2 separate regions of the Homo sapiens genome follow, and region 2 is reported to be linked to region 1. The links are microRNA targets in miRTarBase. Many come from high-throughput screens and were not tested one by one. Region 1 holds a microRNA gene; the other region holds the end of a gene's coding sequence.

The links. Region 1 holds the annotated microRNA hsa-miR-708-5p (AAGGAGCUUACAAUCUAGCUGGG, at 2,090-2,112, opposite strand). A microRNA usually pairs through its seed, bases 2 to 8, with sites in the 3' UTR of a target mRNA and lowers its output. Matches are read on the target gene's strand: a 7mer-m8 pairs with bases 2 to 8, a 7mer-A1 pairs with bases 2 to 7 and ends in A, and an 8mer does both.
Region 2: miRTarBase lists C14orf93 as a target of hsa-miR-708-5p. The part of its 3' UTR that is shown has no 7-base or 8-base seed match.

Annotation. Positions count from the first base shown.
Region 1 is chr11:79,399,988-79,404,054 of GRCh38, forward strand. MIR708 (microRNA 708) reads right to left here and starts at 2,122; the gene lies at 2,035-2,122. The region is part of intron 1 of TENM4 (teneurin transmembrane protein 4); the gene reads right to left.
Region 2 is chr14:22,983,846-22,987,899 of GRCh38, forward strand. C14orf93 (chromosome 14 open reading frame 93) reads right to left here. Exons shown (of 7, transcript NM_021944.4): 7 at 2,049-3,789. The coding sequence ends at 3,370. AJUBA-DT (AJUBA divergent transcript) reads left to right here and starts at 479. Exons shown (of 3, transcript XR_007064074.1): 1 at 479-975. RefSeq lists a silencer at 2,886-2,995.

The DNA.
Region 1 (4,067 bases):
TAAACAACCCTGACAAACCAGAGAGCTATCAAGTCTCTGCTAGAATAAATATTTGTTGATTGATTTGGTAATCAGTTGATTCTAAATACCTGGGAGACACATAAACACACACCACACACACACACACACACACACACACACACACACACACACACACACCCTCCAGGATTATTTCTCCAAGTCTTGTGTGAGGGAGATGCTTTATCAACAAGACCATATCCCCATATCCATCCTGTTGGGTGATATTCAATGGTTAAATTTGCAGCCTGGAGCCAGAATCCAGTCACTGCAACTTTCTGCTCCATGGTCCGCTTCCTTAACCATTTTTTTTTTTTTTAACCACACAGACTCCTTTGAAGACCTTCCCAGACAATGCACATACCTGGAACAAATTGCCTACAACTTCAGGAGTGTCACAGACTTTGTGAAGGGCTTTGTGCCTTCGGGGCTAAACTCCTCTATGCTGGCACATCCCCAAACAAGGCTCTGAAATTGCAAACACTGCTCCTTTCTCCTGACAGGCATCTCTCTTGCCCTCTCCTCCCTGTGCTCTTCCTGGAACTTCAGAAGAGGGATGCAGTGCTGGACTTAAGCTCTGCAATCAGTGCAAATTCCAGTTTCCCCATCTAATGCATCTTTAAGCCTCAGTTTCCTTGCTTACAAAATGGCAATTGTAATAGTGCCTGTGTCACAGAGCTGCTGTGAGGGCTGAGGGGACAGTGCGTGTTGATGCATAGCACAGTGCCTGCACAGAGGAAACACACAATTGAAGTTTGCAATTGTCACTTCTATTCTTATGTTATCTGTTCCCTTGCTCTCCTCCTCCCACAGACATTGCAGTTTGCCATCGTTCCACTTTAAAAGAAGCTCCAGAAGGTACACTCAGCTCCAGAGAACTGGAGATAGCCCTGCATGCCATGACCTAGGTGTCAGGCAGGGGGCACTCTGCCCAAGTCAGACTTGGGACAGCAGGTGGCATATGCCAGACTTGGCCCTGAGAAGCTCTGATTGGGATTTATAAGGCCTATGATTACTAAAAAACAGAAAAATTCAAACTACCGAGTGAAAAATCAGTGGTACAGTAGATTCAAAAGCTTAATAAACAAAGGATCTTGGGGACAGGAAATAATACAAGGGATCCATGGAGGTATAACATTTGAGAATTCTGGTGTCCTTCACCTTTTTGTTTTCCTGCCTCCTTCCCTCCCTCTCTTCCTTTAAAGAACAAGCATGTATTGAGCAGTTATGTATGCAAGCCTTGTGCTAGGCACTGGAAATGAGAGATGAATAACCATGATTCCTGCCCTCTCGGAGCTCACAGACTAATGGAAGAGCCGATTTACAGAAAGAACACAGTGCAACAAGTTCCCCAACAGGGTAAGCACACGTGCTGAGGCTGTCTAACCCCGGAGCCTCAGACTCTTTGAGATGCAAAGGAATAAACAATAATTCCCAGAAAAGGTGACACTCAAATGGAGACCTGTCAATCATTTTTATTAGGCATTTTTGCTGGTTACAAAAGTAATAAATACTTTTTGCAGGAGATTTGGAAAGCACAAGGGTGTCAGAAAAAGAAAACGTCAATCATTATTTTACCATTAGAGGCAACCACTAATACATTCTGAAGCATTTCTCTTTCCATCTATGTACTTAACATCAATGAGTTCATCATGTCTATACATTTGATAGGCTCCCCAGTTTACTTAACATTGAAACATAAGCACTTTTCCATCAAGCTCAGTCCAAATGAGTGACCCCTGGATCTTTGATCTGGGGGACCAAGTCCAGGAGCCTGGAAGCCAGGGCTGGCCCAGAGGAGATATGACAAGCTGGGTTTTGGTGAGCAGGTTGAGTTGGCAGTGCTGTGGAGCATTCCACCCGGGGAGGAACACTGAAGATGCTGGAGAGCTGGGTGTGGCACTCAGGAGACAATTCAGGCCTAGAGGGTCCTCAGGTGGTGGTTGACGCCATGGGGATGGATGAGATCCCTCAGGGAGGGTGTGCAGGGTGAGAAGAGAGATGACTAGGGTAAGGTCCCTGCCCTCTAGAAGCTCACAGTCTAGTTGTGTTCATGTGCAAGTCATTTACCCCCAGCTAGATTGTAAGCTCCTTGAGGGCAGTTACCATTTCACACACAGCAGTCCCTCGCCAACCATGGGGGTTAGGTTTCTGAAAACCCCTGGGGCAGGAGAAGTCAGGCTTCAGGAATTTAGGACCTTATTGGGGAAAAAATAGGGTTAGGGGAATGAAGTCACCAGTGAACTTGTAAAATTATTATATTTTTACATAATGAGAAATGACAATGACAACATATTCAAAACACTGAATATCAGTGACACAAATTATCAACATATTCTTCAATTAACAACATTTTACAACTTATTTTCATGTACCATCTATCCCTTTAGTAGAGCTTGCCCCTTCACAGCTACAACAATATGCTTGTAAATTCACTTTTGCATTGCTGGAAAAAATACACTTGCTAAGAGTCCTTTTCTTATGTGTGGTTTCCCATCCAATTATTCAATGCATTTTGGTTTTTATAACTCCAGGCTACTGACACCTGTCTCTTGGTCCCACCCACAAGTGCAAGCACACACCTACATCCTAACAGGTAGGAGTGTGTTTCTGAGGTCTGATCCACCCCCTCCCACTCTCCTCTCTTCCCCAATTTTACTACAAACACCTCTCCTCTGCAGCCATTTCACCTACTTCCCTCTTCCCCAACCTCTGGGCAGATTTCATCAGTTCCCCCATAGGAATGAGCAAAGACTCCTGACCTTGGGATTCTCCAAGGCTTCTGACAAAGTATGCAAACATGAAGTTGTCAATATTAGAATTTGGTGTCTTTCTTTGGTAGACACTAGCATATCATTCACTCACTAGCTCATAGTAGGTACTCAATAAATTCTTGTTGAACTGAGCAATTTCCAAAGTAAAGGATGTGGACTTTTTTTTCTCTTTCCCCATTCACTGCTCCAAATGAATATTAAACCTTCACACAACATAAATATTGAAATATTTGTAGGCACATTTTATTTTCCCTTCTGGCAGGTCATGATGACAAGAGGCAGCTAATAGATGCAATCTATCTGCATTCACGAAGGCAGTTTTGAGTTCCACATGACATGCTGTCAATAGAGTCAAAAGATATGGCCCTTTAGTGAAGGAATTCTCCATATTTTCCAGCTCAGACCACTTGGATAAAGGAAAACACCTACTAACCAACGATTCTCCCATGCACATTTATGACAAAAAGGTTGTCGCCATGACTAAATGGGAGGACTAGCACTGTTTTTCATGAGATATCAACAAAACCATGTCTTTTAAATGAAACAATAATCAGTTACATTTATACAGCACTTTACATTTTACAAATGCTTTCAGGTACATTTTTATCTCACTTTTTCTTCACAGCAACTCTGCGAGGTAGTCAGAGAAGGCACTGATAGTTCCATTTTGCAGATGAAGAAACTGAGGCTTACTCTAAGGAAGGGACCAAAAGGGGCAACTCACTAGTCAAATTTGATACCCTTTCCATCTCCCATCACTGTTCTGTTGCCAGTTGGGTTACAATGAAAAACACAAAACTAAATTGCAATGCTGTTCCACTGTCATGTAATTGCCAGTGCCCAAGAGGTAGCCCACCCCTCGACACTCACATTCTCCCATTCCTCCCACCCCCAGTTGTCTTCCCTCAACCACTATCCACTCCACAAGTCAGTACCCAGACTGGCACATGAAGAATCTGAGTCAGTACCAGAAATGGCATTCAGCACTTCATGCATAGAAGCAAAGCTATGAGGCCAAAAAATCCGGGGGGTTGAGGGGGGTGGTGGGGGTGGTTCACCAGTCTTATCTCATTTAATCCTCTGCAAAATACTCACAATGATCACCCTTTCAAAGATGCAGAAACTGAGGCTCATCATGTGTATTAGCTTGGCCATGGTCACATGCCCAGAGAATGACAGTCAGCATTTGAACCCAGCTTCAGTTCCTGGACAGCAGGGCAGTCCCAAGAAAGCACTTCACTGGCTCAGAGCCACATGTGTTCCATTTCAGCCTCC
Region 2 (4,054 bases), not on the chromosome of region 1:
AAAATACAAAAATTAGCCAGGCGTGGTGGCGCACGCCTATAGTCCCAGCCACTCGAGAGGCTGAGGCGGGAGAATCGCTTGAACCCGGGAGACAGAGGTTGCAGTGAGCCAATATCACGGCCACTGCACTCCAGCCTGGGCGACAGAGCAAGACTCCGTCTCAAAAAAATTCTCAAAAATAAATAATAATTTTTTTTAAAGAAACCCTAGATGAAGCTAAACATACCTAATTAAATACCAGCCAACGGCCGGGAGCGGTGGCTCACGCCTGTAATCCCAGCACTTTGGAAGGCAGAGGCGGCGGGATCACGAGGTCAGGAGTTTGCAACCAGCCTGGCCAGTATGGTGAAACCCCGTCTCTACTAAGAATACAAAAATTAGCCGGTGTGGTGGCGTGCACCTGTAGTCCCAGCTACTTGGGAGGCTGAGGCAGAAGAATCGCGTGAACCCAGGAGGCGGAGGTTGCAGAGAGCCGAGATTGTGCCATTGCACTCAGGCCTGGGCGATAGAGGGAGATTCCGTCTCAAAAAAATTTTTTAAAAACCAGCCAACTACTTTTGCCCAGACTAAAACATCAGGGGCAAGGGGTGGAGGAAGTAGAATGGAGAAGGAAAATGACTCCTTTGTATTTAGATAGTAAATGAGTATGAAAATTATATGCAAACAAGTCATGCATATTATTTTCATCTCAACATTTTGAACACCTTTTATAATCTTAGTGTAGCCTTAGGGAATGTGGAAAGAAACGAGGTTAATATCTTTTGGGAAATTAATTTGTGCCAAACTATTTGGCTTCTTCGTCCTAGTTGCATTGTCTCCCTGACCTCATCTCCCCTGAGAATCAGCCTCTGTTTCCCTGGTCAAGGCCACGGCTTTTCTCTGATCCTGAGGAGAGTTTCCTACCAGAGTGGAAGCAGGGAGGACTGAAAGCACTAGGAACAGAGGGGAGCTATCGGATTGCATCTAGAACCTGCTGTGAGCAACATCTTCAGAATTAACCATAATGTGTTCCCTCCTTTCCTGTGTCCAGATGAGGAAGGAGAACTTTGATTCTTCCTTCCAATTACATCCAAAATATCCACACAACTACTAATATTTGGAAGCTTTGATCCTTTGGGGTGAGGATGCGAGAGGAAATCTTATGAAATGTTGGGAGGCCATTAAAGGAGGCCCATGCAAGAGTTGGTGGTAGCAATGGGCACAACTGGGATGAACAGCCTGTGTTTTCAAGGGATAACTGGAAGCAGAGATGAGTGAAGGGGAAGAAGTAGAAGACGCATATGCTAATAGGGCATGCTCCAATAGTGCTCATGACCTCAGGTGGCCTCTCCACAGTCTAAACTGGAGCTGGGATCTCCAAAGGCCCTCTTCGTTCCCAAGACTTTAATTATAATCTGTATATGCAGGTGACTCCCTAATCCATATTTCCAGCCCAGTCTTTCTTGGAATTAAAAACTCAACTAACTACTAGCATCTCCAATGGCTGTCTCAGAAGCACCCAATATCCTAAACTGATCTCATCTTCTCTGCCTCATGAAACTGGCTCCTCTAACATTCTCTGAGTAAATGGCACAATCCTGTTAGCTGCTTAAACTAGAAATCTGAGCGTCAACCCTATGTCCTCCTTCTCCCTTAACCTCAAATCCAACCAAGTCCTATCAATCACCAAGTTCTATTAATTCTGCTTCCTAAACATCTTCCAAATCTGTCCTCCCCTCATCACCACTATATATGTCAAGTCACCGTCTTTCCTCTCCGAAACCAATGCAAAAGTCTCCTGGCCAAGGCTTGCTCCCTGCAATCCATCTTATACCCTGAGGTCAAGTGATTTTTTTCAGTACAGAAGCTTTACGACTTACAATGGAGTTATGTCTGAATAAACCCATCCATTATAAATTGAAAATATCGTAAGGCAGAAGTGCTTCTTCAACTTCACCATATTTTCAGCTTAAAATGGGTTTATCTGATATAACTGCATCATAAGGTGAGGAGCATACTGAATCATTTCGCACCATCGTAAAGTTGAAAAATCCTAAGTCGAACCATCGTTGAGTTGGGGACTGCCTGTAGGCAAAACCTGTCGTTTTATTTCCCTGCTAAAACAAACTTTCAATGATTTCTCACTGCCCTTGGGTTGAAGTCTGTACTCTGTATTATGAGGTCTGTCTCACTCTCCAGCCTCTCCTCTAGCATTATCCCTTCCCCAAAAGTCTGCAGTAGAACTGGACCTTGTCTGTACTCTCTCTTGCCCCTGGACTTTTGTACCTGCAGTTCCCTGTTTGGAACACTCTCTTAGCCTCCCCTTTCCTTCTGGTTAACTCTTCCCCAGTTTAGACATTACACCCTCTCAGAAGAAGCCTTTCCAGACTGCAAGAGTAGGTTAGCTACCCCTGCTGTATATTGCCATAGTGCACTACACTCCACCATGGTCACCCTTATCACAGTTCATTTCATTGCCTACTCCACTGCCTGGCTTCCTGACTAAACTAAAAAAATCTCTGAACAGCATCCAACCTTATCAACAATGTATCCATAGCACAGTACCTGACACCTAGTAAAGCGATCAATGTTTGTTATAAGACTGAATAAATGTAAAGCCATTTTTGCTTTTCAATCCATCCAAAATGCACACCCCTTCCTCAAAATACAGCTTGGCTGACAGGACCAAGAAACAGCTACAAAGCTGTGTATTTTGCTTGGTCACATAGTGAGAGAGAGGCTGCCGGTGAGACACGGGAACTCTTTAAGCCTTAATTTCCTCATCTGTAAGATAGGAATAGTAAAATTTTCCTCATGTAATTCAATAAACAATAGCTATTATATCAGGAACCCAATTCCCCAATAGTGATAGAACTTGTGTTCCCTTGGTCAGAAGACTCAAGCTCATGACTGAAACTGCCCACCAGGTGGCGGTATTAACCTGCACTGGTCATGTTCGGTTTCCACTGCAGAGCAAGACAAGTAGTCACAGGGAAGCAAAAGGTACAACCTGGGCTGCTTCCTCAGAGCTTTGGGTGGAACTGGGCAGGGGCAGAAACAACTCAGAGACAGGGCATATGTCAAGAAGGCCTCATGTTTCTTGGACCCATCCTCCTCATTTTCTCATCCCAGGCTTCTCCGAGATACTGTTTATGCTGAGGAATAAGCATATTCTGGCTTACTGTTCACAGTGGAGGGAGTTTCTCCCCTTCTAGATAAGTTTTTATCCCACCAGTGTTCTGCTTCCCCAGTAGAGACTGTGTTAAGAAAAGAGGCAAATTTGCTTTCTCAGACTGCACAGAGCATCTCATTATTTTGTGAAGCCCCATGGCCACCTATTTCTGAGACATGGGGCATGGCGGAAGCCAGAGTTATTCTTGGCTGTAGATTTTATTCATCCTTTTCCACCTTGATTTCAATGAATGAGTTCAAGTCAGGACAGCAGGTTTTGTGGGGTTGGTCAAAAGATGGGGAGCCAGGTGCATTCTCATCCCCTCCCTCATCTTCCTCTTCTTGGAAATTAGGATTGTAAAGTTCTGGTGGAAGGAGCTGGGCTTCAGCAGAAGGCAGTCTGTCTGAGGGAGGCCCATACACACGGTTGGCTTTGGTGCCATGCTTAGAGTTAGCATCCAGGTGGTAGCAGAGCTCTGTGAGGCGCTGGGCCCGGAAACGGGGAGGGCGGGCCACCCACACACCTGGCTCGTTAAGACTGTCCTCTTCATCTGACATCAGTTCCTCTGTCACATCATTCCACAGACGTTGGTCCTCAGGTCCAAAATGCCTCATGATACTGGATCGGTTGGCAAAAAGCTAAGGCAGGAACCCAGGAGATAGATTAGGAAGGTAAACATTCTATGGATTAGATTTGGGGAAAAGGTTTGGTGGGGAAGGCTGTGTAAAATCTGTGCCTAAGTGAACCCAGTCCCCAAGTCAGATCTTAGCATTGGCTCACTGTTCTTCTCTATCTTCCTACATTCCTGGCTCTCAACCCTATTCTCATATGCCATGTCCTCTGGCCCTTCCCACTTAGGAAAGGGTTTAGAGTTTAGTATCTTGAAAGAAAGGCCTAGAAACC